3 linked regions of the Homo sapiens genome follow. The protein of the gene in region 1 interacts with the protein of each later gene in a pairwise test. Each region holds a gene or a part of one and is shown in the gene's direction. Other genes may lie near its edges.

Region 1 (3,657 bases):
CAGTGCCGGGATTTGACCCAGTCCTGGTGGGGTTCTGTCCAGCGCCGGGATTTGGCCCAGTCCTGGTGGGGTTCTGTCCAGCGCCGGGATTTGGACCAGTCCTGGTGGGGTTCTGTCCAGTGCCGGGATTTGGACCAGTTCTGGTGGGGTTCTGTCCAGTGCCGGGATTTGGACCAGTTCTGGTGGGGTTCTGTCCAGTGCCGGGATTTAGACCAGTCCTGGTGGGGTTCTGTCCAGTGCCGGGATTTGGCCCAGTCCTGGTGGGGTTCTGTCCAGTGCCGGGATTTAGACCAGTCCTGGTGGGGTTCTGTCCAGTGCCGGGATTTGACCCAGTCCTGGTGGGGTGCTGTCCAGTGCCGGGATTTAGACCAGTCCTGGTGGGGTTCTGTCCAGTGCCGGGATTTGGCCCAGTCCTGGTGGGGTTCTGTCCAGTGCCGGGATTTAGACCAGTCCTGGTGGGGTTCTGTCCAGTGCTGGATTTGACCCAGTCCTGGTGGGGTGCTGTCCAGTTCCGGGATTTAGACCAGTCCTGGTGGGGTTCTGTTCAGTGCCGGGATTTGGCCCAGTCCTGGTGGGGTTCTGTCCAGTGCCAGGATTTAGTCCCGTCCTGGTGGGGTTCTGTCCAGTGCTGGATTTGACCCAGTCCTGGTGGGGTGCTGTCCAGTGCCGGGATTTAGACCAGTCCTGGTGGGGTTCTGTTCAGTGCCGGGGTTTGGCCCAGTCCTGGTGGGGTTCTGTCCAGTGCTGGGATTTGGCCCAGTCCTGGTGGGGTTCTGTCCAGTGCCGGGATGCTGTCATGTTATCACGTAACCTGGCTGTTGCTCACCGATTGTCCTTGGTGAGTCACTCTTTAGCATCACTGCAGTGGAAGCAACAGGACCCGGCTGCCCCACGTTTGCAGCACGCTGCTTCTCTCAGAGACCGTGCAGGAATTTTCCTTCTCCTGGTCTGCGTGGGCCGGAGCATATGGCTGGCTTGAGTGATGCTGATGAGTTTGCTTTTCCTTACAGACCACACCACCCCAGAGCCAAGTGCACCGAGGCCTTGGCCAAGCAGAGCCTGGTCATGGATGCGGATGACGAGGCAGTCCTGAACCTCATTGCAGAGTGCGAGTGGGACCTCGGCAGGCCTCCCGGGAGCACGAGCTTCAGCCAGAAGGGGCGTGAGGCCGACTCTCGTGGTTCCCAAGGTGCGCTGCTCATCTGCCAGGAGGCCAGTGGGTCCGCTGGCTCTGGGATATATATAGTCGTTACTGGGCTTGGAGTCCACAGTTGCTCTTTTTGTGGAACTTACCTTGAAGGATAGGATCTTCATGATGTGTCTTTGTGTGCTTTCGAATGCCAGCCATTTGGACTACAGAGTTATAAATGAGAAAGTTAACATATTTGAGTATAGTCATACTGCATGATGGTTTAAATTGTATCCTTCTGAGATCACAGGAAAAGGCAAACTGTCTAAAACAGACAAGAAGCCTAGTGTCCTGTGGCAAGTGGGGCTGACATCTGCGGCAGCTGCAGGGGGGCATAGTCACCGAACTTGCAGGAAACCCTGAGCTCAGGCCGCCACGTGCAGACCTGTAGATCCCAGCAAGGGTGTCTCGGAGACTCCGTTGCCCGGTGGCACTGCCCTCCACTGGGATGTGCTGATGGGCTTTAGCTTCATTTATTCCACCTCCGCTGTGAGTTTCTGAGAACTTTTCGTGGAAACAACAGGTGGAGACCTGAGTTTGGGCTGAAATCTTAGGTTCATCTGTGCAAAGATGTCTGCCCTGTGGCAGCGGTGCTCGAGCCATGTCCTTGCCGGCACTGGGAGCTGAGTCCTTTAATCCTAGCTGCTCTGTCAGGGGGTTGTGGTCTGTGTTTATGGCTTTAATTTGCATCCGCTGCTGTTGAGATACTGGCCGTGCCTGTCTCTTCTTTTCTCTCCAGGTCTGCCCACCTTTGTTCTGGGGTTGCTTCTCTTAGTATTGAGTCCTAAGAGATCTTGGTGGTTTTGACACAGGCCCTTTCTCAGGCACAAGGGCTGCCCATTTCCTCCCTTCTGTGGCTGGCCTTTTCATTATCTGAACAGTGCTTTGAAGAGCACAAGTTTTAATTTCATTACAGTCCAGTTTATGAAGGGCACAGTTTATTTTGTTTTTTGTTTTGTTTATTTTGAGATGGAGTTTTGCTCTGCCGCCCAGGCTGGAGTGCAGTGGCGCAATCTTGGCTTGCTGCAGCCTTTGCCTCCCGGGTTCAAGTGATTCTCCTGCCTCAGCCTCCCAAGTAGCTGGGACTACAGGCGCCCACCACCACACCCAGCTAATTTTGTATTGAGACTGTCTGGACTCTCTCTTCTGTTTTGTGCATCATTTTGTCTGACTTTGCTCCACTTCATGCGGCTGGATTCTTGCAGCCTTGTCCTGAGTCTCGCAGGCGAGTGGCGCCAGTTCCCAGTTCCAAGCTCTCTTGCTGTTAGAAGTCACTGTGGATTCATTTCAGTGTCACCCAGCACGTGATTAACCCCTCGGTCTAACAGATACCATACACTATTCAGAAGCTTAAAATGTAATTTTTGATGGAATAAAACTTTTACAATGTTTTATGAAATATTTTATTTACAATATTTTAATAGAATCCAGACATCTGTTGAGCCCGCAGTTGGTACAGTACCAGTGTGGGGACTCTGGGAAGCAGGGCCGTGAGACGAGGAGGAGCAGCTGCAGAGGGTGCTGTCTGGAGAAGATGCCTTGGAGCCAGCTCTGTGGAGAGCTTCCGCCACTGTACGGAGCGGAGCCAGAGGCCTCCCGTGCCCCCAGGCCACACACGTACTTCACCCCACACCCAGGTACTTACGCGTGTCTTAGTCTGTTTTCTGTTGCTGTAACAGAAAACCACAGACTGAGTAATTTATAAAGAACAGAAGCTTATGTGGCTCATGGTTCTGGAGGCTGGGAAGTCCAAGAGCACGGTGCCGGCACCTGGTGCTGGTCCTCCCATGGCACAGGCAGAAGCATGGTGCAGGCAGAAGCAAGCTCAAGACAGAGAAATGGAGCTAGACTCATCCTTTATCGGGAACCCAGCCCTGCGCTACAGCATTCCTGCCTCCCTGCGGGCTGGCCCTGTGACCTGTTCCAGACTCATCCTTTATCAGGAACCCAGCCCTGCGATACAGCATTCCCGCCTCCCTGAGGGTTGGCCCTGTGACCTGTTCCAGACTCATCCTTTATCAGGAACCCAGCCCTGTGCTACAGCATTCCTGCCTCCCTGAGGGCTGGCCCTGTGACCTGTTCACCTCTTAAAGGCCCTCCGCTTAATACTGTTAGAGTGGCAATAAGTTTCCAGCTTAGGAACTTTGGGGGGTTCCTTCGAACTACAGCAACATGAAATCCCTGTCAACTTTTACTCCCTTCAGTTCCTTTTTAAGTAGTTAAATATTTTTCACATCGTTTGCTTTTACTATGAAATTTCTCCTGTTCTCTGTGTATTTATTTGTTTGTGGAACTCTCCAAAATGTCTTTGGAAAGAATGCAGCACATTGAAATTTATAATCCATTCATGGTTTAGATTCATGGTTGGTAAATAAGTGCTTTTTCTCTGCACGTGTGTGTGTGCACACCCTCCCTCACCCTCTCACTAATGCACACACACTTTTAAGTGTATGGGCCCAGGTTATGGC
Region 2 (3,657 bases), on another chromosome or scaffold:
GAAAATATTTTTAAAATCGTTTTCATTTTTCAGTTATTAACTATGATTGGTTCAGTCATTCTCAGCATTTGACTCATGTTCTTTCTCATAGGATTAATCACATTAATATGAATATGGGAAATACACATCATTTAAAACAGTGCCTAATAGAGTCCTTTTATCTGTGGAACTAAAAGATAGTATATATAAATAAGGTTATTCTTATTTGTATGTATTCTTAGCATAGAAATTGACCAAAAAAACCCCACTCAAATGGACATTTTAAGTAAACTGTTATCTTTTTTTGTTCCTGTCTATTTATGAAAGAGTTTAATCTTCATTAGTTATAAGAGAAAAAGAGGTCAAAGAAATTGGTATTTACAAAGAAGAGTTATACAACACTCTCTTTTACTCATATAATTTTTAAGAAGCTAACAAAAATTACAAGGTGACATATTGTTGTTATTAACCAATACTTCAGAACTCCTAGTTTCATAGAATGCAGTGAGTACGCAGCATGGTTTTAAACTATTATGCAAGTTGCTTCCTTCTGGTGTAAAAAACTACTATGTGGATTTCAAACCCTGCAAAAATATCAGTTTTCATCCATCTTATGAGAAATCTTGCCTGTTTTTATAAGGTGCAGAAAGTATCCTGCTTTTGTATTTCTCTGCTTTTTAATTGAGCCCATCAATGCCCACAAGGTCCTATAGCTAAAGATGGGAAATAGATATATCTGTACAATAACCAAACAAAATTCTTGTTAACTAACAAGAAATAATACTGAGTGATTTCCCTTTTTGCATTCATTGGGAGTTTGGCAGGGAGGTTCTCTACTATAGATCCTCAGGAGCAGTTTTTGTTTTTGTTTTTTGTTCTTCCTCCTGTGGGAACAAATCTAGAAAATAAGTCTCCAAAAAGAAAAAGAAACTGCAGTTTACTGTCAGACCATGGCTAAAATAGTAGAAATAGGAGGCCATCCTCACTGCCTAGCTCAGATGAAAGAGCACAGGCTTTGTGGGGTCTAAGAAGGGTCAATAAGAACCAAGTGTATAAAGTGTGTCATGGAAGCTTTGTACTTTTGTTTTAATTTTAAGGACCAAGGAATGCTTTTTTTCCATTAAAATAAAAGGAAAGAAGGAAGAAAATAAAAGAAAGAGAAGAAAAGTGAAGGAAAAGGTTTTCTCTCATCAGAACATGCCCAAGAGATAGCAATTTTGTATTAGTAATTAGAATGAAGATGTATTTAAAAGTATTTTAATGATAATTTTAAGGTTTTGATAGATAGTGCCAGTGATAGTGAAAAAAAAAAGCATCAGATTAATCATTTGGTTTGTGTGCCTTTTGCGTATCACCTCTAAAAGTGTCAATGAATTTGACATAAATGAACAGTTTCTTCTATAAATTATCTTTTTATTTTTAAATAACACTGTAACATACTAACAGCGCACTAAGAAACATCTGTATTTCCATGATATTCAAGTTATTTAACTTGAAATTTTAAATCCTGAGCTCATCATTAGTTCTACAGAGAGATTAACTGTATTAAAATTTGTCAGTGTAAGGAAAGGTACAAAATTATCAAATATCATATTCCATATTAAAATTGAATTGCTTTAAAACATTCAAAACCACAAATATTAGACAACTACCTTCTTTAGTTTTCAATGCTTTTTCTTTCTTGTAAATTTACTAACGGACTAATCTTATAGTTGAGACCCATCATATATTAAGCCTATTGTTGGTACCCAGAGAGTGAGAGGAATGTTTTTACTTGTGTCCTAGGAATCCATGTCAGTGAACGCCTCACATGGAAAAGGATTTTCCCGACCTGCTAGACCAGCAAATCGTCGTCTCCCCTCCAGATGGGCATCCAGATCTCCATCTGCACCCCCTGCCTTGCGGAGAACTACCCACAACTATACCATTTCTCTGCGATCCGAAGCATTGATGGTTTAAGTCTTTGGCCTGGATTGCTATATTACAGAAGTTCTAGTCCCACTTGTCAAACAGAGCATTCTGAGTGTTTACAGGCGGACCTGTTCTCTTCCGACAAGCAATTTGAATCTTAACTTTCCATCAGTCTTCAGTGTTTTTAATCTAAGGAATAATTATCTTCCTGCATTTTGATTTCTTAGATCAGAATTTTTTAATGCCATCCTCATTAGTTTTCCAATACAATATAAGTTGAAACAATGTACAATATTGTATATTCTTTGTTGCAAGTGGCAGAAAGTAAGGTTATGTGCATGGCCATGTGTTTGTAGGTGCATGTGTTGAAATAGGAAGTATCCTAGTATGTATTTAGATATGAAAAACTTATGTGCTAGTGTTGACTTTGAAATTATAACATGTATACCTATATATTCTTTGTGTTTATTTAAAAGTTTTGAAAATATGCAGTACTGTTTATATTTTGTATACCTTTTAATAGGTATCCACTTAAGGCATTTGCAGTACAAATATTAATTGACCACTTCCTTGGCCCCCAGCTACAATGAAAAAGAAGAATTATGCACACATCTAACATTGGTAGATTTCTAAAGACAACTCATAAATAATTTCTTAACCCATATAAGGATAAAATAATACCATTGATATTCTTGTTTATTCTTTTTAAATAAAAATGTCACAAGTTTAATAGATCAGCCTTGTAAAGCAAGCATAAAATGTTCATAAATGTTTTATATATTATTTGGTAGTCTAGTATGGCTTTAACTGAATATTTGATCCTCAGAGACAGTATCATGAGACTGCATTATAAATGACATGATTAAATGATGAATTTATTTTGTCAGCCTCAGCAACAAACATTTCCTAAATGGGATGCAAAAAGAAACTGAATGATGTTGAATTTTAGTTTTTCTTTAAGTTGTGGTAAGCTTTTAGTTTAGCTGCTTTAACATGGAGTCATACATACTTAGAGGTAAGTCATTTATTATTTTTTTCCTTTTTCTAATCTTTTCCTTAAAATTAATAGATAACAAACTAAGTTACTTTTTTACTAACAAGGAAGATCAGGAATAATATTTCTTTGAAAGCTGAAATTATACTTCTCACAGTTTGCTACCGAAAAAAGGCTTAAACTAAACCTTGACATCCACAGTAGCATCAGGAATAGAAATGTGTATTTTGGCTACAGTTTGCATACAGTGAACACATAAAATCTATATTGAAAACTGACAGAAATATGAATGTCGAGGGGCTTGGAATTCTAAATGGAAGATTTTAGAAGGAACTTTGCTCTCTACTGTCACTATATAAAACCAATTATGTTATGTTATTAGATATTAACTCTATTTAAGCTTTTCTTTTACTAAGAAATTCTTATGCCAAATGTATTCCAAGAGCCATCTCCTTATGATGTATTTGAACCATTTAGAGAAATTCACTTCATTGTACCCCATGACCTGAGGTAAAGAAAATAATTTTCAAATTGCAGACTTCCTTGAAAGGCTCAAGACTGTAGCATGGTGATGTCTAGATTCATACTTTACTGTAAGGACAGTTTCGGTAGTTAAGTGGAATTAAAGGTCTAGAGTGATTTGTATTGGATGGTAACTAAGGTCTATACATCTACTCTTTTAATTCTTATTTCCTTCAGGAAGATCCTTTTCCACAGGAAGCTATCAAAGAAAAGTAAACTAGACACCAAGTAATATCACTCTCATAATATGC
Region 3 (2,796 bases), on another chromosome or scaffold:
AACCGACCTTTCGGGTTTCACGGTGAAGAAGTACTAACGCATTGATCTCAGAGGCGGAGGCCTGCACTTGACCATGTAGGTGGCAGAGATCGTGGGCTGGCTGTGTCCACGTGGGAGTTCACTTAGCGACTCAGATATCTCAACCAATGGCTGCTTTGTTGTCTGACAAGGGAGAAGGTGGCACTTCCGTTCAGATTCATTTTGCTAATCTCTCCACTCCCTGTTCAGTTGGTTCTTTTTTTGGGGTTTTGTTTTGTTTTGTTTTGTTGTTTTGTTTTTTCCTTTAAAGAGGATTTCTGTCTCTGGGACCCTCGCTGCACCTACCCCTCCCATTGCAAAGCCAACTTGGACTGGGAAGGGCCCTTCAGGTCACCAAACATCCACCTGGAGCGGCGAGCTAGAGGCCTGTTGGCTTGTGAAATGAGCCCTCCTGCCACACGGGGCCTCTCCCAAAGGCTCATCCCTTGGCCGCCCCCTTCCTAAACACAAGGATCCCCAGCTGGACTCCCCACCCCCTGGCTTCCCCACCTCTCCAGGTGTCAAAGGTGAACCGAGTCCAGTATTAGCTGAATGTCATTTCGTACACCACAGCTCAGTCAGCCCATGGCCTTCGTGAACTTTGCTCCAACACACTGATGTGTGGGCTTCCCACAGCAGGACTGACTTCCCCCTTTCTGTTGTTTGCACATGCCCCTCTTACTGTACTGTCAATAGATATTTTTGAGATTTATTTTTAAATAAATATTCAACTTGCTGTGTGTTTCAACGTGGTTAAAAAAATGAATTATGTAGCTATTTATTAAATGCCCTGGGTTCTTTAGTCTTCCAAGGGAGGGCCTCGCGCCCATTCGTGTTGTATCCTCCACTCACTATGGCCCGAGGGGAGAGGAGAGTTTGGGGCAGGGAGGAACAGACATGAAGCCTCCTTTTCTTGAGCTGGTGGAGAGCCACTGTCTTCCCTGCAGTAACTATCTATACACCTACCTCCAGTGTGCACTTAGGGGGTGAGCGCGGGTGTCGAGGTCTGTGTGTCTGCAGACTGCTAACCTATGACAATTCAGGGACCTCACCTGTCGGACCTATAGCTTGCTGAGCAGGAACCTTGCACTTCACACTTCTTGAGTCTCGTTTCAGAAGGAAAATCATTTGGGATTCCTACTGCCCCTCCATCTCAATCCTCTTCTCTTCACCAGTTTCCAGGACTCATCTGCAACATTTGCAATCTTTTTGCACTAAAAGTGGGCAGGAGTCGGCATGTGCCCATCAGAGAGACGGCTCCTCAGATGCTCAGCTAAGCCTAAGCGCTTCCAAGCCTGAAGGCCCCTTCAGCTTCTCATGTGAATTACCAACCCCTGGATTTTCCTTGTGGGGGTACAAGAGCAGGAGTGGGGCAAGAGTTTGAAAATAAAGCCGCTTCCTTGTGAACTAACTATATTTTAGCCATAACTGTTTGTGATGTACACAATGTTAAGGGATTTATATGCAGTGGGCTTTTCTGGGAGAAAGTTATTCAGCTCTTGAGCAAGTTTAAGTCTGGCTGAATCCTGAGGCCACTGTGAATTTGCTGATGTTCTTCCAACTCAGTTGAGTGATTTTAAGGTTTTCCAAATCTTCTATGGCTCTCTTTTTAATATATATATATATATATATATATATATATATATATATATATATATATATCTATCTGGTAGATCACATGTAGATGTACAGTGTGTATATTAAGCTGAATTTCAACCAACTTTATTACTAAGACCAGCCTAGCAGGGCATTCATCTTTGATGTTCTTCCTTTTCACATTTCAGAATCGGCAATGCCTGGCCCACTCCTGAGAGCTCTAGTTTTCTAGTTTTCCATTTCCAGATTGCGCCAGCATTACAGTAACTAACTCTTTCTAACCAACCGTGATGCCACGTAACTTACCCTATGGACAAAAGCAGGAATGACTAACACATCCTAGGAGGGAAAGTCCAGTGTACCTGTCATCACGGACGCACTGTGGTCACAGACTGGAATACGAAATACTACAGCCCTGCTCCCAGGTGTGCATCTTACTGGATGAGGTTGCTGTGATTGAGATAGTTAAATACATGCTAATTTAAAAATGCAGATGTTTTACATTTGATTTCTACCAAGAGTTGAAATGTTGAGAGATGATTAAAAATAATAATAATAAAGTGTCTTCCATTGTTAAATGAAGTGTTTGGGGTTTTATGTCCCCTGGCCCTGCTTTGAAGTTTGGTTACTTGGGAGTTTATTTTTCCTTAAGCTGTATTTAGTTTTTTAATGACAAGACTTAAATTTTCTCTTCCATGAAACTGACAAATAGCATTTGAGTGCTATACTGCGAGCCTGGCACTTTTTATTTTTTTAATTTTTTGTAAAAAAAATTTTTTTTTTTTTCGAGACGGAGTCTTGCTCTGTCGCCCAGGCTGGAGCACAGTGGCGCTATGTCAGCTCACTGCAAGTTCCGCCTCTTGGGTTCACGCCATTCTCCTGCCTCAGCCTCCCAAGTAGCTGGGACTACCACACCTGGCTAATTTTTCGTTATTTTTAGTAGAGACGGGATTTCACTGTATTAGCCAGGATGGTCTCGATCTCCTGTCCTCGTGATCTGCCTGCCTCGGCCTCCCAAAGTGCTGGGATTATAGGTGTGATCCACTACGCCCGGCCATGTTTTTTTTTTTTAGTTTAAGACGGGCTCTGTTACTTCCCAGTCTGGAGTACGGTTGTGTGATCATGGCTAGCTGTAGCCTGGACCTCTTGGACTTGAGTGATCCTCCCACCTCAGCCTCCCAA

The links.
Region 2: the proteins of CEP72 (region 1) and KIAA0408 interact in a two-hybrid assay, tested with the Homo sapiens proteins (one large-scale study listed by BioGRID and IntAct).
Region 3: the proteins of CEP72 (region 1) and SPATA2 interact in a two-hybrid assay, tested with the Homo sapiens proteins (one large-scale study listed by BioGRID and IntAct).

What each region holds. Positions count from the first base shown.
Region 1 is NC_000005.10:632,759-636,415, forward strand, and holds part of CEP72 (centrosomal protein of 72 kDa), read left to right. Parts: intron 1-1,010; coding exon 1,011-1,189; intron 1,190-2,613; coding exon 2,614-2,826; intron 2,827-3,657. UniProt on the Homo sapiens protein: Involved in the recruitment of key centrosomal proteins to the centrosome.
Region 2 is NC_000006.12:127,442,390-127,446,046, reverse strand, and holds part of KIAA0408 (uncharacterized protein KIAA0408), read left to right. Parts: intron 1-1,764; coding exon 1,765-1,938; 3' UTR 1,939-3,657.
Region 3 is NC_000020.11:49,902,787-49,905,582, reverse strand, and holds the end of SPATA2 (spermatogenesis-associated protein 2), read left to right. Parts: 3' UTR 1-2,192; downstream 2,193-2,796.